Linked DNA regions of Homo sapiens: region 2 is linked to region 1. The links come from fine-mapping of genetic effects on gene expression. A gene starts in region 1. The other region holds a variant in brackets. All regions are shown on one strand. Distances are from middle to middle. Region 1 holds the start of SRL (sarcalumenin). Region 2 overlaps SRL (sarcalumenin).

Region 1 (12,017 bases):
CATCCTCCTGCCTCTGCCTCCGCCTCCCAAAGTGCTGGGATTACAGGTGTGAGCCACTTCATCCAAGCCCAAACTGGACTCAAAATCTGTTCCTCTCTCTTATGTTCCCAGTCTATTTTTCTGGCAAGATCATTCTCCCAGTGACCTCAATGGAACCTGTAAGGGCCCCCTCCCCTGGCCTGGCTCCCAAGCTGGGAAGGCCAGGGATTCTACACCAGCTGTCAGCTGGGTCCACCCCTTCTCTCCACTCCCAACCCCTCGCCCAGGTCCACACTCCCTCACCTACCTCTCTGGCATGGCTGACTAATCAGTCTCCCCCTCCCTACTCTTCCTACAAACAACTGCCAGACGGATCTTCCCTGAGCCCTTGGTAGTGACCCGCTGCCCACAGAGCAAAGCCCTGCTTAGCCTAACAAGGCCCTTCACACTTCAGCCCCACCCCTGCCTTCCGAACACGTCCCGCCACCCCACTTCCATCTGCCCGCCTTCATGCAAGACAGAACAATGCTCCCCTTCCCTGGGTCTCACCAGAGCCCCGTTGCTCTGGCACCGTGAGTTTGCTCATCTTGTTCCCTCAACTCAGAATTCCCTTCCTGCCATCTTTCTGTTCTGAATCCTGCTTTCTTCAAGGCCCAGCTCAAATATTCCCTCATCCGTAAAACCTTTTCTGATCCGATCCACTCAGCTCAGGATGGTCTCCTCCCTGCCTTCAGCCCCACCTTGCTTTTCCTGTGCCTCCCCAGTGACACTGATGTGTGTCCCATTTGACTAGATTCAGCTACGTGCAAGGGAGAAGACGCCTCCTCTCCCCTACTGGACTATAAGCACTGAGGACAAAATGCCTGTCTCAATTCCCCTAGTACCATACTTCAAAAACAGCAGGGATGCAGCAAACGAGGGATGGGTTCACGAATGATGGAACACGTTGAGGTGTTTGAATGACAGGGTTGCACATACGAGCGATGTTTACAGGTAAGGACTTATGCTGCGATGAGGCCTGGATTTGGGTTTGGAGCAGGGCATGTGCCCAGGAGAGAGAGCTAAGTAAGCCCAGGCGCTCCATCCCACAGCCATGGCCCTCCCTGCTCCCCACTCCCCCAGCCACCTGCCTCATTCCAGCCAGGATGCACAGGGCCTAGCTCTGTCCTTAGCCTGCAGGCCAGGTCAGAGAACGGAAACAGCTGTCCCCCTCCTGAGTCCATAGGCTGACTCTCCCCAGCCCACTACACCCAAGCAGGCATCAAACGGCCAGCTAGATGCTACCGGCCTCATCTGGACCTCCCTCTGGGGGATAAGCGGGTAAAAGCACTGGCCAAGGAGTGGAAAGGACTGAATTCCAGCTCTGGCCTGCCATGAACTCACTGTTTGACCTTCACTGTAATACCTGGATGTAGGAAAAAACCAGCAGTTCCTAAACAGCAGTTCCACAGGCCACCATGCCCGGTGCCACTTTTTTTTTTTTTTTCCTTGAGACAAGGTCTCGCTCTGTCACCCAGGCTGGAGTCAGTGATGCAATCACAACTCACTGCAGCCTGACCACCCAGGTTCATGTGATCCTCCCCCCTCGGCCTCTCAAGTAGCTGGGACCACAGGCATGCACCCCTACACCGAGCTATTTTTTTTTTTTTTTAGAGACAGGGTCTCACTATGTTGTCCAGACTGGTCTCAAATTCTTAGCTTCAAGCGATCCTCCCACCTTGGGTTCCCAAAGCGCTGGGATTACAGGTGTGAGCCACTGTGTCCGACCACCGTGTTACCTTCTTGAGGGATGTGTTCATTAGCAAGACCCAGTCTAGTGCATTCCAGGCTCACTGTGGGACCAGATGTCCCCTACAGGCTTGCCCGGCTGCACCAAATGAGGAGTCAGGGAACCAGCTGTGGGGAAAAGGCTTCTGGGGTCTGTTCTCTCCCCAAGACCCCTGAGCTTGCTACATTTTCTCAGCAGCCCTGCCACAGCTAGGCTGCCCTGATGAGGAAACTGGAGTGCTGGCCTCTTTCCAGAAATAACCAGCCAGGGGTGGGAGAGAAAGGGGCGGGGAAACAGCTTCCTGACCGTCACTGCACCCTTGTCTCACATGGCGGGCACTGAGCTGTGGGCACTCACAGAGGGGCAGCCCCAGCATGCACCAGCCCCTTGCCATTGGGGTGGCCGGGTGGGGCCAGGGCAGATGGGCAAGTCTGAAGCTAGGGCTGGAGGTGGAGGAAGGATGAGATGGACAGGAATCCCCAGATCCCCAATCTCCGTATCAAGCAACAAGAGGGACAACAGGAAGCAAAGAGGTCCCAAATTCTGCCTTTAGCAGTAAACACCAATGGCTTAAACCCGAAGAAATGAAATGCTTTCTCAGCAGACTTCGCTCTCCAGGGAAACCAAAAGCATAGCTCTTCGCCCTGCAAACTAGGGAAACTCCCCCAGGACGGTCTTATCCACTGCACCCTTTCTCCTCCTTTCACACTCACCGTACAGGGAGAGAGGGGCTTGGGAGTGCAGGCAGGGTCTGTCACAGAGAGACGGGCTGAGGAAAGGAGAGGACCCTGGCCCGGGTGTGCCTGTCACTGACGCGCTGTCTGACCTCGGAAAAGTTTTCCTGTTTCTCTGGGTTTCCTTCCCTTCCCTGGATGGTGGGGAGACCGATCAAATCATTGCTAGGGGCGTTTCCCACTGCTTTAAGGAGGAACAGCCCCAAGCCAGGACTCCCAAAGAGGAGGGCCCAGTGGGTGGTACAAAGGCCTGAGTGCAGCAGCAGGTCGGGAGGTGGAAACCGGGTAAGGCCCCACCTGGCTGCTCCTTCCCCGTCCTGGCATGGGCACGGGCGACGGGTGGTTGGTAACAGAGGGGCGCTTGTCTCCTCACAGGGAGGCGAGAAGGAGGGCTGCAGAGCCCACCACCCCAGCCAGAGCTGCACACGAGCAACAAGGAGGAGAAGCCGGAGGAGAAGCTCTGTGGGGTCCCTGGCCTAGGAAGCAGATGGGAGTGGTGAGCGAGAATATCTGCCGCCACCCAGCCAAGGAGCAAGCATGATAGGGAGGGAAGTTAGCACACAGCGGAGAGATGAGGGAAAGAGGTCAGGAGCCAAGATGTGACCTTTGGGTGGGGTGGTATTTACCGGGGTGGCACAATTCTGAAGGGGAAATCACCCAGTAGGAAGGACTGTCATGATGGGGGCGTGAGGAAGCCACCTTGTGGGTTAGAACCTGCCGGTGGATGCAGGAGGAGGCCTATTCTGGGGTATACAGTCCACAGTGGGGCAGAGTCCTGATAAAATCCACCACAGTGGATGAAACCCACAGCCCAAGTGCTGAGCAGGAGCAGGGACAGAGGGAAGCTTTACGCCGGAGGTTGGGCCAGGGGCAGACGCACGCTGTGGGACCCAGGAAGGAAAGACAGCAGAGAGAAGGGACCTTTGCACAAGCACCTGCCTGCGTCCTTTCCCCACGACAAGAGCCCCCAGCGAGGCCTGCAGAACATTCCAGATGACCAGTTCCCTCGGTGGGAGGAAAGATAAAGGATGTCCCTAAAAGGCCAAAAATTCCTGGGGCCCAGTGTGTAGCAGCCCAGCAGCTGGGGCTGGGGGGCAGCACAGGAGCGGCCACGAAGGGAGAGGGTGGCAGCGGCTTGGGGCTCCGGATCCAATTACGCGGCTGTTTCCATACTTAGCCGCCTGACAGCCGCCTGGAATACTCAGCACTCAAGCCGCTGCAGCCCTGCAGAGCCCAAATTAACTCAAGGACAGACAAGGGCAGGGCCCAGCAGCACATGCAGTGGCTGGAGCCCCCCACCTTACATCTTGAGTCCCCGAGAAATAGCTTTTGTTCCCACCCACTGCCTGCTCTCCCTGCAGGGACTGTGCCCCTGCAACCCCCTATTCAACCTCAAAGACCTGAGAGGCTGGACTCTGGGCCTCTCCAGTCCCAGGTACGGACCTAGGCTCAGAGCCCAGCTTGGGGGAAGACTGCCGAGTCATGAAAAGACTCGGTGGGCAGTCCGGATCCTAGGGGGATCCCCGGAGCACCTCCCTAAAAGCATTCCCTCGGGGAACCTGGCCTCAGGAACCTTAGGAACAAGAGAGGTGGCAAAACAATCTGGCATCTCCTCCATAGCCTATAGATAACCCCCATGCTGCAACCCAAGCCACCACCTCTGCTACCCAAAGTGCTGAGATGTCAAAGGGAAGCCTCAGCACACAGAGCCAAGCCCCTTTTCTGATGGAAGCCCCCACCCCGAGCAGAGGCTCTACTCCAGAACGGGCCCCGTTCCTCTTCTGAATTGCATCCAATGCTGTTTCCAGCCCAACCGCCAACTCTATTTCCGATCTTATCCCAAACCAATTCCAATTCTATCTCACTGCTCCCAAAACGGTCCCCACCTTTGCCCACTGTATCCCCTTCTGTCCACGCAAACCCAGTTCTCTTACCCGAGTGGGGCCTCCGCCTTATATCCCACCAGGTGGGAGGGTCACCTCAACGACCTCCAGCTCCCAGACTGTGCTATTTTGTCCGTCTCAGAGGCTCCCCCGTCTCGACTTTGAGGGCCCTCTTTCCCACATCTACTGGCCAGACTCCTCTCTGACCCTGGCTCACAGCTCAGCTCTGTTTGCCGTTCCCACTTCCTCTGGCCTTCCTGAGGGCCCCGCAACTGTGCTGCTATTCTCCAGCACCCAGCTCTTTCTCTGAGGCCCCAGGCCCGGGGAAAAGAGAAGGGTAAGAAGACACCAGCCAAGAGCCAGGGTTTGCCATCAGCCCCGACCCCCTACCCAACCCATGGTAGACAGAAAACCTTGGAGGAAGCGTGGGGGACCAGTCTGGGCTGGGTCATGCTGGGAGGGGCCCTACCTGCTTGTCCTGAGAACAGGAGCGAGGCCAGGAGGCAGCCGAGCAGGACCAGCGCCCTCATGGTGACTGCCAAGAGAGCCCAGCTGCTCCTCGCCTCTATTTATACGGCCGGCCGTGGCAGCAGGCGGTGGAGGGGGGAGAGGGGTCACACAGTCACCAGGGCAACTAGGAGGGTGTGATGGGGAAGAAGCCCGGACCCCAGAAGGCTGTGCAGAGGCTCAGGCTGCGCCACTGCTGTCCCAGCTGCCAGGCCCCAGAAGGCAGGGCCGTGGCTGGATTCTCTTCCCCCGAACCCCTGCAGCCCTGGGATCACATGACATGGGTCACAGGGCGTGGGTGACAGGCATAAAATGGAGCATCCCTTGGGCTCAGGCGGTGGAGCTGGGAAGCTGAGTCTTCCCAGAACTTGCAATAACTTGACCTGAAGTCTCGGCAGGTTAAGGACCTTGACACGCCTGCACTGGAAGGAGGAAGTTGTAAGGCCACGCAAAAGAAATCCTATTTAACAGCCACTGATCCACATGCTAGAGAGTGGTCAGCTACGGCAAACCCGCAACATGTGACCTCTGAGGTCCAAGGCTGCAGCCCTGGAACAACCTTCCCAGCCTCTGGAAGAGAGAGAGCACAGACCAGAGGGAGAGGGGCACACTGAGACACAAGCTGAGGCTACGGTGTAAACTGGAGGATGGAGCAACAGATATCCATTTCCAATGGCCCAGGGGTTCCAGAACATTCAGTCACCTCTGCAAAGTGCTTTTTTGTTTATTTGTTTTTGATAGAGGATCTCGCTCTGTCACCCAGGCTGGACTGCAGTGGCACAATCATCACTCACTGCACTCGACCTCCCAGGCTCAATCAATCCTCCCAACTCAGCCTCCCAAGTAGCTAGGACAGTAGTGCCACCATGCTGTACTAATTTTTTAAAATTTTTTGTAGATGGCCCAGAGAGCCAGTTGTAAGAAGCCAAGGGAAAGCAGACACTTGCTTGTCTGGTCGGGGTACAGTGTCACTGTGTGGGGAAGAGGTAGAAGCCAGCCTTGGAGGAAAGGAACTAAATCAGGGCCAGGCACAGTGGCTCACACCTGTAATCCCAGCACTTTGGGAGGCCGAGGCGGGTGGATCACCTGAGGTCAGGAGATTGAGACCAGCCTGGCCAACATGGTGAAACCCCATCTCCACTAAAAATACAAAAATTACTGGGTGTGGTGGCGGGTGCCTATAATCCCAGCTCCTCAGGAGGCTGAGGCAGGAGAATCACTTGATCCCAGGAGGCGAAGGTTGCCATGAGCCAAGATTGCACCACTGACTCTAGCCTGGGCAACAGAGCGAGACTCTGTCTCAAAAAAAAAAAAAAAAAAAAAAAGAATTAGGCATCTGGTAGGCACTTGACTTTTTTTTTTTTTTTAATCTTTTTTAAGAGACAGGGTCTCTGTCACCCTGGCTGGAGTAGTGACACGATCATAGCTCACTGCAGCCTTGAACTCCTGGGCTCAAGCCACCCTCTCACCTCAACCTCCGAGGGGCTGGGAATACAGGTGTGCACCACATCTGGCTAATTTTTTTGTTTTTTGCAAACATGGTCTTCCTATGTCACTCGGGCTGGTCTCCAACTCCTGGGCTCAAGCAATCTTCCTGTCTCGACCTCCCAAAGCACTACGATTACAGGCATGAGCTACTGCTTTTTCAAAGACAAGGTCTTGGGACTTTTCCTCTTGGAAGTCCCCTCTCTCTCACTAAGGAGCTGTTTTTCTTTCTCTTTCTTTTGCCTGTTAAACCTCTGCTCCTAAACTCCTCATGTGTGTCTGTGTCCTAAATTTTCTTGGCGTGAGACAATGAACCCCAGGTATTTACCCCAAACAATGTAGCTGCTTCATGTTGGGGACCTCATCCGGGATCCCAAGGTACAACACTCATCAAAACGAGTCAAGAAAACTTATTGTGAACTATTTATGGCCTTTAATAATTGAATAAGGTATACTCCTGTGAAGAAAATTTGGAGCATGTTTGTTTCTCTCTGCCTGGTTTCTCTGGAATCTGGAAACTATCTCAACATCTGGTGGAGGCAAACCAGTGTTACAACCCATCAGAATGGCTGACAGTAATCAAACTCTAAATGGTGCTGCAGACAGAACCATGCACGGACATGCCTTTTTTCCGAGGACCCTTAGCTCGACCCCAGGAGGAGCCCTTAGCTTCTGTTCCCCACACAACACCCCTTTTAAGTATGAAGTAGCCAGAAAGAGTCATCATCAAACAACCCCGAAGAGCAGTTAGGGTTACCACTCCAGAGTGGGGAATGATACAGGAGTTAAGAGGAAATTACTTAGATAGTGAGGATACAGAAGTCCTCAGTAAGGTTTTCCTTTTACTGAAAAGCAGCCCCAAATCATTTTCCTTTCTAACAAAGAGCAGCGTGTAAAATCGAGCTGCAGACATAGATGCAGGCAGTTGTGCCAATCATGTTCAAAATGGCGGCTCCATCTTCCCTTCTCTGCCAGCCACGTGCACAGTAAGGAGCAGACAAGATGGTGCTGGCCAAGGGGAAAGTTCATTTGCATAATAAGATTAGAGTGGGGAGGTCAGCCTTCCCCACACCCCAGCGCTATGTAAACATCATACCTGACTGAACCAATCTGTGAGCCCTATGTAAATCAGACACCACCTCCTCAAGCCTGACTATAAAATCCAGTGCATCTGCTGCCGGTGGCGTTTTCCTTTCAGAAGTACCCTCTCTCTCACTGGAGAGAGCTGTTTTCCTCTCTCTCTTTCTTTTGCCTATTAACCCTCTGCTCCTAAAAATTAAAAAAATAATAAAAACAAAAAATTTCAAAAAATAAAGATGAGGTCTCACTGTGTTGCCCAGGCTCCTCTGAACTTCCCAGGCTCAAGTGATTCTCCCACCTTGGCCTCCTGAGTAGCCGGGACTACAGGCGTGAGCCACCATGCCCAGCTCTGCTCAGCTCAGCTCAGCCTTCAGACAGAAGCTGCCAGAGCCCTCAGCCTAAAAGACCCCACCCCATTTTCAGAAACCATGCATCCCTAGGCACACCTGCTCCTGACTGTCTCAGACTGACATTCCTCAGATGACTGGGGAGGAAGCATGTTTGAGAACAAGACGTGGGGCAGAAGAAAAACCATGTAGCCCGGCTACTCCTTTCCAATGGTCCCATTTCTGATGCCCTGGAGCCAGCGTCAGCCAGCTGCTTCTATAAGGGGCCAGGCGGTAAACAGTTTAGGTTTTGTTGGCCATCTGCAACTCTTCCACTCTGCCTGTGTAGCTAGAGCAGCTGGCACCACAGAGATGAATGGATGTGGATGCATCCTGATAAAACTTTATTATAAAAAAAAGGCAGCTTGGTTCCAAGCTGTAGTTTGCAAATCTCTGCCCATACTCTAGGGAAATCATTTGGTGAATTACTTTGTAAAGCAGAAAATCCTTTGGTAAAGGACCACCCATATCAGCGCTTTATGAATCTGGGTTTTCCTACGTCTGGCTGCTTCATGTGGGGGTTCAGAGCTAGAAAGGGGAAGGCGGTGCAATATCTCGGGGCCAGGGGATGACGTGTGTGTAACGAGGCTGCTGTGGATTTGAGCCTGGGAGCACATGCTCCGGGGAGAAATACGTGAGGAGTTTCATCATCTTTTTTTTTTTTTTTTTTTTTTTGAGACAGGGCCTCATTCTGTCTCCCAGGCTAGAGTGCAGTGGCACAATCATAGCTCACTGCAGCCTCGACCTCCTGGGCTCAAGCAAACCTCCTACCTCAGCCTCCAAGCAGCTGGGACTACTACACCTGGCCATTTTTTCTTTTTCTTTTTGTAGCAACATAGTCTACCTACGTTGCCCAGGCTGGTCTCAAACAATCCTCCTGCCTTGGCCTCCCAAAGTGCCAGGATTATAGGCGTGAGCCTGACAAGAAGAGTTTCTTGGGGGAAAGAAGTAGGTTTAACCCTGAAAAACTTTCTCCGATCAAATGAGAAGAGGTCCCCAGAAGCGGCAAGTCAACATCACAGTCACAAATGTTTATTTGGAGGACCTGACAGCCAGGTCTCAATTGCTAAAGTGTTGCCACAAGAAGGAAGTATTAGGCTTGTCCTGTGTGGTTCCTGAGGGCAAGGCCAGGTTTGATGGGCAAGGGTGACAAGAAACCCATTTTAGCTCAAGGTGAAGGAGGATGTTCAGGTTGAAGCTGCCCAGGAGAGGAACAGGATTGCTGATAAAGAAGTGTCCTGTCCCTGCATGGGTTCCAGCAGAGGCCAGGTATGCAGGGACGGGCACTGCTCAAGTGCTTTCCCTCCCTGCTTGTGCTTAAAGTCTGATTCTAGGGAAGACTCTGGGGCTGGTGCCTCCTGGAGGCCCTCTGCCTCTGTCCCTACATCATTTCCTCTGGAACTCCGGCCTCACTGGTTTCTGCGGGAGGCGCTTACGTGCAACAAGCCTGGCCCGCATCCTTGTCTCAGGACCGTGGGCTGTCTCTAGGGTGGTGAGGGATTTATCCAGCAAGCAGTGTCCTTGAGATGAGGCTGCATCTGCCAGCGGGCATCTGGGTGGGCAGGGACTCTTGGAAAGCCAGGGGCTGTGAAGGAAAGGAGAGCTTCTGCACGCCGCATCCCAGCCATTTCAGCAAGGGTCTTGGGGGAGGGTCTGGATGGGCCTCCTCGCCTGCTTCCTTTTTTTCCACTTCACTTGCAGAGGGCTGCTCCTCTCAAAGCTCAAAGTGCTCCTCTTCTCTGATGGAGAAAATCCCTGGGACAGGGCTCAGAGCCACACGTCGGTGATTCCGGGGAAGATGCGGGCCTCAGTTGTCAAACAGGGCAGCCAGCCTCATAGAACTGCTGTGAGGGACACGGGAGATGCTGGAGGACACAGGTCATGAGTATGAGCTCACTGAATTATCACAAAGCACGAAGAGCAGGTGATGGGGGGGACAGGGAGTGGAGATGATAAGAAAGGCCACAGCCCCTTTACCGTTCTGGGCACGCACTTCCTGTGGCTAAGCCCCTCTTTGGCAGCTGACTTGCTGTATCGTGCCACACCTCAAACGGTTCCTCAAAGGGCTAGGAAAATCAGATTGAACATGACAACTCAGGTCTCTGAATCCATTTTGTACTCAAGACTGACCCAGCGTTAACATGTAACCCTCATTGAAAGTATTGTCCCATTTATCTCAGAAATCATAGGTTATCTGTCTTAGAGGGACCCAAATTCCCACCCAAGCAGAAATCCCTTAACAGCCAGCCATCCAGCCTCTGAATACTCCCAGCAACAGAGAGCTCACTACCAGACAGCTACAGCTCTGCTGTTCTGAAGAGTGTAGGGCCTAGAACTAGCCACGGTGCTCCAGGTCTCCTCCCAACTTCTAAGTCTCAACTTTCAGCCAAAAGCCAGGAGCAGGCCGGGCGTGGTGGCTCATGCCTGTAATCCCAACACTTTGGGCAGCCGAGGCAGGTGGATCACTTGAGTGTTGCAGGCCGAAAGAGTGAGGGTCGTGATCAACTCAGTGCACCACTGGAGGCTATATGAGTAAACAGCAAACTGTTTTCATGAAAGCAGGGTGTTGGCAAACTGACAAACTGCGTCTGCCACCCAGAAGGAATGCTGAGGGCAGTCACGACCCAGCACAAGTGTTTCTTGTAATGAGATAAGGTGAACCTGTGATCAATCAAGCAGCTGACCAATTGTTACCTCCTCCACCCTGCTCTTTCTACCGAATGAGTATGAAGGGCGGTAGAGGTTCAAGGCGGCTGCCCTTGCTCACTAGAAGCAGGGAGCCCTCTTCTTCTTCCCCTGGCCCCTTCCTTTAAAACAGTTTCTTTTGTTTTAAGTTTTCATTTCTACGTTCGTACCCCTTCGTTTAGTCCCGTGGTAACTGTGGCAAACCGCGGCACTTGAGGTCAGGAGTTTGAGACCAGCCTGGCCAACGTGGAGAAACCCCATCTCTACTAAAAATACCAGGCGTGGTGGTGCACACCTGTAATCCCAGCTACTCAGGAGGCTGAGGCAGGAGAAATGCATGAACCCAGGAGGCAGAGCCGAGTAAGCCGAGTATTGTGCCTCTGCACTCCAGCCTGGGTGACAGAGTGAGACTCCATCTCAAAAAAAAAAAAAAAGCCAGGGACATGCACCACAAGGATCCCATGGAGAATGAGCACTACCTCTCTCCTGATCGCAACCAAGCCACCCCCTGCTAACCCTTATACCTGACATCTCCTTCTCCTACAACAGAACAGCAGATACAGAGACTCACTCTGTCGCCTAGGCTGGAGTGCAATGGCGTGATCTCAGCTCACTGCAACCTCCACCTCCTGGATGCAAGCAATTCTCCTGCCTCAGCCTTCTGAGTAGCTGCGATTACAGGCGTGCACCACTACAGTCCGGCTAATTGTTTTGTATTTTTAGATGGGGTTTCATCATGTTGGTCAGGCTGGAGAACAGCAGTTTGTCAATTCTCTTTGCAACCAGAACGTTCAGAGCACTGTCTACATCTCCCATAGGGCAGGAGACAATAGGAGAGATAATAAATGTGTATCAACAGACTAACCGCTGATGTGTGTGGCACCTGCAACCCCTTCAACCTTCACAAATCACCTGCCTATTTATTGAGGCCATCCACCAAGATAGCCGGCACCCTGGGGAAAACTTGACTTGGGCCCCCTAATTCAGGCAACTTTGCAGCTGTCATTCTTAGCTCCTAATTTTTTTTAATTTATTTTTATTTATTTATTTTTTTGGAGACGGAGTCTTGCTCTGTCACTCAAGCTGGAGTGCAGTGGCACGATATCGGCTCACTGCAAGCTCCACCTCCAGGGTTCAGGCAATTCTCCTGCCTCAGCCCCCTGAGTAGCTGCGACTACAGATTTTTTGTATTTTGGTAGAGACGGGTTTCACCGTGTAGCCCAGGCTGGTCTCGAACTCCTGAGCTCAGGCAATCCGCCCGCCTTGGCCTCCCAAAGTACTAGGATTACAGGAGTGAGCCACCACGACCAGCCTTTGTTGTTGTTGTTTTGAGATGCAGTCTTGCTCTGTTGCCCAGGCTGGAGTGCAGTGGCACGATCTCAGCTCACTGCAACCTCCACCTCCCAGGTTCAAGCGATCCTCCTGCCTCAGCCCCACTAGTAGCTGGGATTACAGGCAGGCACCACCATGCCCAGCTAATTTTTGTATTTTTAATAGAGACGGAGTTTCG
Region 2 (12,017 bases), 51 kb before region 1:
AGCGATTCTCATGCTTCAGCCTACAAGTAGCTGGGACCACCGGCATGCACCACCACGCCCAGCTAATTTTTGTATTTTTGGTAGAGACGGGGTTTCGTCATGTTGGCCAGGCTGGTCAGCATTCTACAGACAACCTCATGTCACATCACACTACTCTCAGTTTCTATTTGTTTTGTTTTTTAACGGAGACAGGTTCTTGCTCTGTTTCCCAGGCTGGAGTGCAGTGGTGGGATCATGGCTCACTGCAGCCTCTACCTCCTGGGCTCAAGCGATCCTCCAACCTCAGCCACCTGAGTAGCTGGGACTACAGGCACATGCCACCACACCCAGCTAATTTTGTTGTTGTTGTTGTAGAGAGGAGGTCTCACTATGTTTCCCAGGCCAGTCTTGAACTCCTGTCCTCAAATGACCTTCCCACCTTGGCTTCCTAAAGTGTTAGGATTACAGGTGTGAGCCACCTAGCCCAGCCAGTTTGTTTTTCTAATGCTTTTTTATTGCCTTTACTTTCTTCTAAAGAAAAATGATCTGAGGTGAGAGGATCACTTGAGCCCAGGGGTTTGAGACTAGCCGGGGCAAGATGACAAGATCCCATCTCTCTAAAAAAAAAAACACTCAGCCTGGAGTGTAGTGGTGCCATCTCAGCTCACTGCAACCTCTGCCTCCTGGGTTCAAGCAATTCTCCTACCTCGGCCTCCCAAGTAGCTGGGATGACAGGCACCCTCCGCAATGCCTGGCTAATTTCTGTATTTTTAGTAGAGACTGGGTTTCACCATGTTGACCAGGCTGGTCTTGAACTCATGATCTCAAGTGATCTGCCCACCTCGGCCTCCCAAAGTGCTAGGATTGCAGGCATGAGCCACCGCACCCAGCCAAAAAAAAAACCTTTTTTAATTAGCTGGGTGTGGTGATGTGCACCTATAGTTCCAGCTACTTGGGAAGCTGAGCTGAGGAAGGAGGATCGTTAGAGGCCAGTAATTCAAGGCTGCAGTGAGCTGTGGTTGCATCACGTCACCCAGCCTGGGTGCAGCCTGGGTGACAGAGTGAGACCCTGTCTCAAAAAACCGCACAGACACCTTCTTTACTCCCCCAAACCCACTTATTCACTCTGATGGCACACGGGTGATGAGCTCCTGTGTGTCAGGCACTGTGCTAAGTACCTGGCCACCTGTTTCCCCACACTCATGGACTTTACATATGTATTTGCACACACCTTTTGCATATAACCATGTGTAACCCCCATGGATTCAGATGATACATCCACTTACCCTTAAAAATACTCCATTCATGCCCCTCACTTTATCTATGTTTATCCTGGTCCCGGATTGTGCTTTCTCCGTTTTCTGTTTCTGTTTCTCTATCATCTTAATGGCAGACAATGTGAAGATGGTGAGGCTTGTGAAACAGTACAATTTTGAGGCAGATTCTGGCATATTACTTAACATTTATCTTTAAAACAGTCCTCCTTCTTCCAGGCAAGAGCTCTGGATTTCTCCCGGGAAAGGGTGGAAGAGGGACGCAGGGTTGGGTGGGTGAACAGGAGTGGCCTTAGTTGGGTCATGTTGCTCAGTTGCTCAAAGACCAAGGACTGCAGACTCTCCCTTTCTCCCCAGGGCCCAGTTTTTTCCCTTTCAAAACCCGCTGTCTACCTGCAAGATGGCTCACATCTCTAATCCCAACACTTTGGGAGGCTGAGGCAGGAGGATGGAATAAGGCCAGGAGTTTGAGACCAGCCTGGGCAACATAATGAAACCTCATCCCTACAAAAAAAAAAAAATGTTTTTTTCAATTAGTCAGACATGGTGGCATGTGCTTGTAGTCCCAGCTACTCAGAAGGCTGAAGCAGGAGGATTGCTTGAGCCCAGGAGGTTAAGGCTGCAATGAACTATGATCGCGCTACTACACTCCAGCCTGGGTGCCAGAGCGAGACTCCGTCTCAAAAAAAAAAAATGGGTAGATGTGGTGGCTCAAGCCTGTAATCCCAGCACTTTGGGAGGCCGAGGCAGGCGGATCACTTGAGGTGAGGAGTACAAGATCAGCCTGGCCAACATGGTGAAACCCTATCTCTACCAAAAATACAAAAATGAGCCAAGCATGGTGTTATGTGCCTGTAGTCCCAGCTACTCAGGAGGCTGAGGCAGGAGAATCGCTTGAACCCGGGAGGCGGAGGTTGCAGTGAGCTGAGATGGCGCCACTGCACTCTAGCCTGGGCAACAATGCGAGACTCCATCTCAGAAAAAAAAAAAAAAAAAAATCGAAAACAACAGAAAACCAGCCGGGTGCAGTGACTCATGCCTGTAATCCCAGCACTTTGGGAGGCCAAGATGGGCAGATCACGAGGTCAGGAGATCGAGACCATCCTGGCTAACGCAGTGAAACCCCGTCTCTACTAAAAATACAAAAAATTAGCCGGGCGTGGTGGCGGGCGCCTGTAGTCCCAGCTACTCGAAAGGCTAAGGCAGGAGAGTGGCGTGAACCTAGGGGGCGGAGCTTGTAGTGAGCCGAGATTGCGCCACTGCACTCCAGCCTGGGCGACAGAGCGAGACTCCGTCTCAAAAAAAAAAAAAAAGAAAAAGAAAAGAAAACAACAAAAAACCTGTTCTCAAGCAAGATGTGAAACTCCTTCGAAGACCCCAGAAGTAAAACATAAAAATTAAACGACCTCTGCTCTGAAGAGGATACTAGAAACAGGAAAATGTGATAGAAAGGGCTCAGGGAGTCAAGGACGCGTTCAGGTTTCTCTAAAGACAGGTCCAAGCGGGAGGCTCACGTCCACACTTCGTGGAGGAGGAGAACACTTTCTGGTGAAGCCAAGGGGAGGTGGCAGCCTTACCATTCAGGAAACCTTTGTGCCCTCCTCCACTGGAGCCCTCAGTTATCTAAGGCAGCTGCGTGGATGCCCAGGGGAATGAGGCATTGAGGTGCTGAGGAGAGAGCAGTTCTTTAAGTTTCAGAGGACACCACGCCTTCCTGGGCGGCTGAGAGAGCAACTCAGCCTCAGTCCCAAAAAAGGTCCTGGGGCATCCAGCTAACACAAGGGTGGGCAATTTCTTAATTTCCAGTCTCTCCCCAAGGAACTTACACATGAGTTAACTCTACCAGATAAAAGGAGGATGAAGAGAGTAACCTAGCTGGAGACCATGAGAAAGCACGCGGTGTTAAAGAGAGATCGGAACTTTATTGAGACTGATGAAATCAGAACCAAAAGAACACTGGAAAGGTTCTGCCACTGTCCAGGCACAGATCCTTCCAGACACTCCTCTTGGGGGAATCTCTGGATCATTAAGTTTCCCCCAGTTCCTAATCCCCCACCCCAAAGAGTCAGAATTCTGCTTAAAGCCCCCTCCACGGAGCTGGCCAGAAACCAGACACTGAGTATCTGTACTGACTGATGGGCAGGCCTGTGAGCAGCAGAGACAAGAGAAATCAGAGAAGGAACACGAAAAGGAAAACATGACGGAAAGAAAAGCCCAAGGCAGGGAGAGCATGCTGATAACGCAGCCCCCTGAAAATATAAATATTGCATGAATGTATTAGCCTCATCCCAGCCATTTCCCCCAAAGCAGTGGTGACACCAACAGCTATGACAATGCCCACACAGTTGTGCATCTTTTTTTGTTTTTCCCCTGACTACACAGAAAAACAGATCTGCCAAAGCAGCTCACAGCATGGAGGAGCAGGCAGGGGAAAGTGGGAGGGCCCATCCCCCAAGAGGGCAGACAGTACAGAGATGAGGCGAGGGGTTCTGGGGTTTGCGGAGGGTGGTTAATGAGAAGAAAAGTCCAGGACAGATTCCATCTCATCAGCCCCTATCACAGGCTCCGTGGATGCCCCTTGCAGAACTCACTGTTCTTTCCTGGTCGACTCGTTCCTTGGAAACATTGTCCTGAGTGCCCTGGAACCTCGGGTGTTCTTGTGGAAGGGTCCAGGCCCTCCACAAAGCCAAACGCAACGGCCCCTGTGACAGCATGCACCAGAGTGATAACAATTCTGAGAACCGGGAATTCCTAACTCGAGGTTCTCCTCATAGACCTAACCTGACTGCCAACTGGCTTACCCTGCCTGACCTCAGAGTGCCTCTCCCTCTGCCTGCCTTTCCACTGTCCTGGGTCCAGGATGACTTCCTGGTGCTGAGCTGGTGCATCCTGACTCCTGCCTCGTGGGTAAGGCCCCCAGGACAGCTTGTTCCCAAGAGAAGCGGCTGGCTGTGTACAAAGGAGCCCCTCGAGGCAGCCCGGGCTGGGTCTCCTGGGCATGCACAGACTGTGCACCATGCACATTTCACCATCCAAAGGCTGCTTCTTCCCTGCAGGTCCTGCCCCTCTGCTCCCCACCACCTGCTGTGGAGCCGTGCATGCTAGCCTTGCAAGACTGTTACAAGTTCTCTACTCCCTAGAGTCTATGTGATCTCCCTAATCTCTCTTGGACAACATACACACATATTCACACTTATTGGTATTGAAGGCCCTGGCTTTCCTGCGGTGTGTTCAGTGGACATCTGCATCAAGGTCAGGCGGGAAGGTCAATGTTAAGCCTTGGTGGCCACCGACACCGAGTGGCTGGTGCTGGTTCTGACTCCTAGGAAATTGCTCCAAGTAAGTGTTGATGCATCAGGGAATGGAGAAGAAAGGAAAGGAAAAGCCATGGTGTGGAAACTGCAAAGGAGCAACTCCGCTGCCAAGTGTTTCCACAGGGGAGTTGTGGAAACAGCCTCCTCTGAAATTTGAGAGACTGGCGGCCTAAGGAAAAGGAGCAAGGTCTCCACTGTCCTCTCTGAAACCCAGCGCCTTTGGGATCTGAGTTTTCCAAGACATGCAATAGACAAAGACGCACTGCAAACCAATTAACCCTCTGAGCCCTTCCACGACCTTCACTACAGTCACTTCCAAGAGTAAATTACCTGGATACACCAACCAGTCCCCTCCTGGGTCCGATGAAGGGATCGAGCCCTCGAGCCAGCTTTGAGGAACACATCAGAGAAGTGGCAGTGGGGGAGGCAGATCCTTGTCCTTCCTGGGAACTCCTGTTCTTAGTTGTCGAGTGTCCTAAACCACTGCCCCACCCCTTGAGGAAACCAGGAGCAAGTCCGGGGGATTGGCTCAAAACCCAGGTGGAGGCCGGGTGCGGCAGCTCATGCCTGTAATCCCAGCACTTTGGGAGGCCGAGGCGGGTGGATCACTTGAGGTCAGGAGTTCGAGGCCAGCCTGGGCAACATGGTGAAGTCCCGTTTCTACTAAAAATACAAAAATTGGCTGGGCATGGTGGTAGGCCTATAATCTCAGCTACTCAGGAGGCTGAGGCAGGAGAATCGCTTGAACCCAGGAGGGGGAGGTTGCAGTGAGCTGAGATTGCACCACTGCACTCCAACCTGGCCGACAGAGCGAGACTCCGTCTCAAAAACACAAAAACAAACCCAGGTATATTCAGACCCAAGAGACTATTCACTGTTGAAAGTCAACCCAAAGTTAAGAGGCAGCCGAGGGCTGGGGAACAAACGCGAGACTGTGGGTGTGGAAAGAAGCCAAAATGGACCTGACAATCTCTACGACTCAGGCCTTCGCTGTTTTCCCAGCTCACAGGGAACAAAGGAATTTCAGCTGCTTTTAGCTTATTTGACCCTCACTGATTTAAGATACACTAGAATTTAGCTGCTCTCTGTCCTTCCAAGACAGGACCCAGGAAAAGCAGGTGGAGGCTGACTTGCCTCAATCAGGCCTCCTCATTGAAGCAACAAGACAAGCACACAGGAATTCACAGTTTCCACTCTCCTCCCTAGACCCACACACCTGCCCCGACCCCTGGCCTCAATGA[A/T]CTCCCAACTCTCCACTGTGTAATAATTCCTGCCAGTGTGGCTCAAAGGGTTAATAAACCAGGACCTCTCAGACAGTTAGGACACAAGCTGATTCACCAACAGGAACCCAAGGACCGCTCCACCACCTAGTGCTTCCTGTAGCGATTTTTTGGTGTTTCGCTACACCCTGTTTTGTCACAGTTGAGAGCACCTGGATTCTTCCCGAGCCCGAGGCTACCCAGGAGGCCCGGAAGCTCCTGAGTGATGGCCCGCTCAATCTTCTCCAGAAAGCAACCTCCCATGTAGGAGCACTGCTGGGAGAGCAGTTTGAAACTGGAAATGGGATTGATGCCGAAGAAGTCCTTATAGGCCTCGCGGTTGGGAAGGTCAAATTTGCTGACATTGGTCTTTGCCAGGATGGTCTTGAAGATGTAGAATTTATCGGGATCTTCCACAATGTCCTTAAAGACCAGTTCTCCATCACTGAAGAAGGTCATTTTGTCCTTGTAAGTCTGCAGGTAGCGGTCAACCAGGAGGGCGTGGATGCGGACCCGGATGGCGTGCTGGCGGATGAAGGCAATCTTGTTCTCCAGTCTGTTCTCGATCACCTGATTCAGGTCTTCTAGGAGGGAGATCTCTTCTTGGAGGAACAGTTCCTGATGGGTGTCCGGCTTATACTCTTGTGGCCAGAAGGAGCTGACGTAAACCCTTGGGGGCTCTGTGACATTGATGAGAGGGGCCAAGCTCCAGAAGAGGGCCCCGTAAACCCGCATGAGCATTTGGGTGGCCAGATTGTCAGCCTTGTTCAGGATGATCCTTATCTGGGATTCACGCCCCTTCAACTGGCGGAAGAGCATCTCCAGCTCTAGACCCACATCCAGCTTTGTTGGGTCAAAGACGACAAAGATGAGGTCAGCTCTGTCGATGAACCACTGGCACACGTCGTTGAAGGGGTAGCCTTTGGGAGACAGAAGTGAGAAGTCAAACTGAGTAGGCCTCCCTCAAAGCCCGCGCACCTCCTTTCAGAACTAAACCATTCTGGGGGTTGAAAGAAGGAACAGCGCTACGGATTTTCTGGGTTTCTACAGACTATTAAAAAATCAATTGCATATCTCCTGTCCCTTGCCAATCTTCAACCAAGAACAGCCTGATCCTTGTTTTTCTTGTTGGTTTGTTTTTTGAGACAGGGTCTCACTCTGTCACCCAGGCTGGAGTGCAGTGGCATGATTATAGCTCACTGCAGCCTCAACCTCCCGGGTTTAAGAATCCTCCCACCTCAGCCTCCCAAAGTGCTGGGGTAATAGGCGTGAGCCACCATGCCCCACCTGATCATTGTTTTAATCTACTGTGAAATCCAAGTTTCCAAGAAAGCTAAATACCTGTTCAAAATGGAGATTGTCCTATTGTCTAAAAGGATCTGGGGCAATGGCAAAGATGCTGAGGGAGAGAAATGAGGAATTAGAAGAACATGAAAGAATGAATGCATTATTTACGGGGAAGGAATGTGGGCTTAGCATTGAGACCTGGACTAGAATTTGAGCTTTGCCCCTGGCGAGCTGTATATTAAATGCCTCTAAGCTCTACCTTTTTAGCTCCAAAATGACAAGAAGAACAATATCAACATCTGAACTGATATAAAGATTACCATGTTGCTGTAAATATAGGACAGCACCTAAAATTCCAGTCATACAGCTGGTGCAGAATACATTTTAATTCCATTAGCTTCTTATTTCCTAGTTTTCTTTGCAAATAAGAAAACTGAGGAGATGAGGACTACCTGTCTTAAAAACATTGAAATCTTTTTTTTTTTACAATAATGTATAAAATTATCCAACGTGTAGTAGGGGTACAATTTACTATTATAATTATTAACATTATTAACATTACTAATAATACTACTAATGTCATTATACCATAATAATATAATTAAATATACTATAATATTATTACTAATATTACTACTAATATTATTAATTGCTTCTAATATTACTGCTAATATCATTACTACAAGATCTATTTATAACCACAATTGGAGTTGTAACCATAAACTGAGATCCACCGTCTGCTCACACATTCCTGCACTGCCCTGTTCAGGACTCACTGCAGACAGCCTTGCCTCATGGCAGGACTCAGTGGCCTACTCCATAGCCACATGCCTGGTGGATCTGGCTTCTAGTCTTGTGGCCTGGTTGTCAGCCTTGTTCATTAAATACATTCACACTGTTGCACAACCATCATGGCCATCCCTCTCTGGAACTTATTCATCTTCCCAAATTGAAAATTCTGTACCCATTAACAGTAACTGCCCATCTCCCCTTCCCCCCAGCCCCTGGTTAAAACCACTCTGGTTTCTGTCTTTCTCATTTTGCCTACTCTCATGTAAGTGAAGTCAGACATTAGCATTCCCCTGCTACCTGAGGGCAAGTAGGGCTTTGAAGAAGCCTGCTAAAGGCTTATGGGGAAGCAACCCTGGAAAAGCAGAAACCGGGAATAGGAGGAGTTGAAGGTCAGGTTCAACCTACAGCAGGCCCAGGAGCACCAAACCCAATTTAGCCAGAAGTCAAACATACTGGTACTGGGATCCAATTAGTCCAGGCCCTTGGCTACACAGGACACACAGGGCCTCCCAAAGACAACTGAGCCCCAGCTTGAACCTCTCAGAGCTGCTTGCAGAGAGGACTAGGCCCCCACTTTGGAAAATATTGCCGTCTCCAAACCAAATCAGTCCTTGGGGAGGTAGGAGCACCAGGCACTCCAAAACCCAGATGGCATCGCAGTAACGACAAGAAGGGTGGAAGTTAAGAATGCCTCTCCTGGTCTTAGGCAACACTGGGCACACTTCCTCTCCCTGCCTGCCTACCACCCACTGTCAAAAGTAGTTTTCTTTTCTTCCTTTTTTTTTTTCTGAGACAGAGTCTTGCTGTGTCACTAAGGCTGGAGTGCAGTAGCATGACCACAGCTCACTGCAGCCTTGACCTCCTGGGCTCAAGCAATCCTCCCAACTCAGCCTCCCGAGTAGCTGGGACTACAGTCATGTGCCACCATGCCAACCTAATTTTTATATTTTTTGTAGAGGCGGGGTTTTGCCATGTTGTCCAAGCTGGTCTAGAACACCTGGGCTTAAGTGATCCACCTGCCTTGGCCTCCCAGAGTGCTGGGATTACAGGTGTGAGCCACTGTGCCCAGCCTTATTTATTCATTTATTTATATAAGTTAGGGTCTCACTCTTGCCCAGGCTGGAGTAGAGTGGCACGATTACGGCTCATTGCAGCCTCAACTTCCTCAGCTCAAGCAATCTTCCCACCTCAGCCTCCTGGGTAGCTAGGACCATAGGCACATGCGAACATGCCTGGCTATTGTTTAAATTTTTTTGTAGAGATGAGGTTTCACTATGTTGCTCAGGCTGGTCTTGAACCTCCGGCCTCAAGGGATCCTCCTGTCTTGGTCTCCCAAAGAGTTGGGATCACAGGCATGAGCCATCATGCCTGGCCAAAAATAATTTTTTGAAACAGAGCTTACACTGTTCAGAAATGAGGGCTAAATTACCTCTTTCTTGCTGCTTGCGGTTCTCGATGATGCCTGGTGTATCCACAAAAGTGACCCTCTCCAGAAGTTTGTGGGGAACCTCAATGCCAATCAGCTTCTCTAGGAAATTCTGGCCAAACTTCTCAAGGGGTGAGAAGGAACGGGCGCTGTCAGCAGCCATGACGATGCCCTCGATGGTTTTCAGCTTAGGCCCATGCATGAGGACCGTGAACTCAGAGGTGGTGGGTTCAGCGCCTGGGCACACGGGGTGAGAGGTGAAGGAATACATGATCTCTGTGAAACAGATCTACTGAGAAGCATGTGTATATGCCTGGTGTCACAGGGAGACTTTTGCAACAGAATTGGATATGTTTGCCAAGCTATTGGGGCTTTCTTTTAATTGTGGTAAAACATACATAACATAAAATTTACCTTTTTTTTCTTTTTGAGATGGAGTCTTGCTCTGTCACCCAGGCTGGAAAGCAGTGGTGCAATCTCAGCTCACTGCAGCCTCCATCTCCCAGGTTCAAGCGATTCTCCCACCTCAGCCTCCCGAGTAGCTGAGATTACAGGCACTCGCCACCATGCCTGGCTAATTTTTGTATTTTTAGTAGAGACAGAGTTTCACCGTGTTGGCCAGGCTGGTCTCGAACTTCTGACCTTAATGATCTGCCCACCTTGGCCTCCCGAAGTGCTGGGATTACAGGTGTGGGCCATTGCTCCTGGCCTAAATTTACCATTTTAATCATTTTAAAGCATGCAGTTCAGTGGCATTAAGCACATTCACCCTGTTGTGCAACCATCGCCACCATCCAGGTCCAGAATGTTTTTATCTTCCCAACTGAAAACTCTGTATCCATTAAACAGTCATTCCCCATTTCCTCTTCCCCCAGTCCCTGGTTACAAGCACTCTGGCGTCTCTCTCTCTGATTTTGCCTTCTTTTTTTTTTTTTTTTTTTTTCCTTTTTGGAGCAGAGTCTCACTCTATCGCCCAGGCTGGAGTGCAGTGGCATGATCTCAGCTCACTGCAACCTCCGCCCCCGGGTTCAAGCGATTCTCCTGCCTCAGCCTCCCAAGTAGCTGGGATTACAGGTGCCCAGCACCATGCCCAGCTAATTTTTGTATTTTTAGTAGAGACAAGGTTTCACCATCTTGGCCAGGCTGGTCTTGAAGTCCTGACCTTGTGATCAACCCACCTCGGCCTCCCAAAGTGCTGGGATTACAGGCGTGAGCCACCGCGCCCAGCCGCCTACTGTCATATAAGTGAAATCAGACAGTATTTGTCCTCTTGTGTCTGTCTTCTTTCTTTTAGCATAATGTCTTCATGGTTCATCCATGTAGCAGATATCAGAATTTCATTCCTTTTTAAGGCTGAATAATAATTTATGTATGAACAGACCACATTTTCTTGATCCTTTCATCCATTGATGAACATTTGACTGGTTTCCATGTTTTGGCTATTGTGAATAATGCTGCTATGGACATTGGTGCAGATGTCTTTTTTTGTTTTCTGTTTTTTCCAAATTTTCTTTTTTTTTTTTTTTTTTTTTTTTGTGAGACAGAGTCTCACTCTGTCGCCCAGGCTGGAGTGCAGTGGCGCGATTTTGGCTCACTGCAACCTCTGCCTCCTGGGTTCAAGCAATTCCGCTGCCTCAGCCTCCCAAGTAGCTGGGACTACAGGCACCCGCCATCACACCCAGCTAATTTTTTGTATTTTTAGTAGAGACGGGGTTTCACCATGTTGGCCAGGCTGGTCTCGAACTCCTGACCTCAGGTCATCCTCCTGCCTCAGCCTCCCAAAGTGCTGGGATTACAGGCATAAAGCCACCATGCACAGCCTTTTTCAAATTTTGTATTTTAACACGTGCATGTGGCATAACTTTTCTTTCCTTTTTTTTTTTTTTTTTTGAGACGGAGTCTCGCTCTGTCACCCAGGCTGGAGTGCAGTGGCACAATCTCAGCTCACTACAATCTCTGCCTTCTAGGTTCAAGCAATTCTCATGTCTCAAGTTCCTGAGTAGCTGGGATTACAGGAACGTGTCACCATGCTTAGCTAATTTTTGTATTTTTTTTTTAGTAGAGATGGGTTTTTGCCATGTTGGCCAGGCTGGTCTCAAACTGACGGCCTCAAGTGATCCACTGCCTTGGCCTCCCAATGTGCTGGGATTACAGGCATGAGTCATAATGTCCGGCCAGTGATTTAAATTTTCATGGTGCTTTTACATACAACATTCAAATCCCAACAATCACACAAGAATATTGATTACCTGTATAGAGCTGATAGCGAGTATTTTCCAGCCCAAGGAGGTAGTTTATCATGGTAGATTTACCAACACTCCACGGTCCCAGGAACAGTACCATGGGCTTGGAGGTAATCTCTCCATCTGTGGGCAACAGGAAGTAGAAATGGAATAAAACTAACAAAAGTTCACACAAGGGGTATGGCACCGTACTCCAAAGCATCTCACCGTCCATCCAACTGAGTTGTGGAATTCTCCATGAATCAGACGTGTGTAGCCCCCAGTGGCGCTTCTCTTGCTACGTAAGTGTGATCACCCAGTAAAAAGACACAGAAGTCACTTTTGGGCCTTGCCCAGATCCTTGGCACGTCTGCCCCCACCACAAGAAGGATCTCAGTGAATTCAACAAACCCTGACTCCGAACTCACTCTGGGTGAGGTCTCCTGGTTAAATCTGGAGGAGAA

What was found. PIP is the estimated chance that this variant, and not a neighbour inherited with it, causes the effect.
Region 2: its variant is the best candidate, but not a certain one, in a credible set for the expression of SRL in atrial appendage (GTEx, PIP 0.85).

The regions. Positions count from the first base shown.
Region 1 is chr16:4,237,174-4,249,190 of GRCh38, forward strand. SRL (sarcalumenin) reads right to left here and starts at 4,907. Exons shown (of 6, transcript NM_001098814.2): 1 at 4,834-4,907. The coding sequence starts at 4,894. LINC01569 (long intergenic non-protein coding RNA 1569) reads right to left here. Exons shown (of 3, transcript NR_039999.1): 3 at 8,652-9,888.
Region 2 is chr16:4,186,219-4,198,235 of GRCh38, forward strand. It overlaps SRL (sarcalumenin), which reads right to left. Exons shown (of 6, transcript NM_001098814.2): 4 at 11,581-11,697; 5 at 9,335-9,568; 6 at 3,156-6,746. The coding sequence ends at 5,935. Among named protein-coding and RNA genes, the nearest start is that of SRL, 50 kb to the right of the region's middle. The variant A/T (reference allele first, on the strand shown) is at 5,809.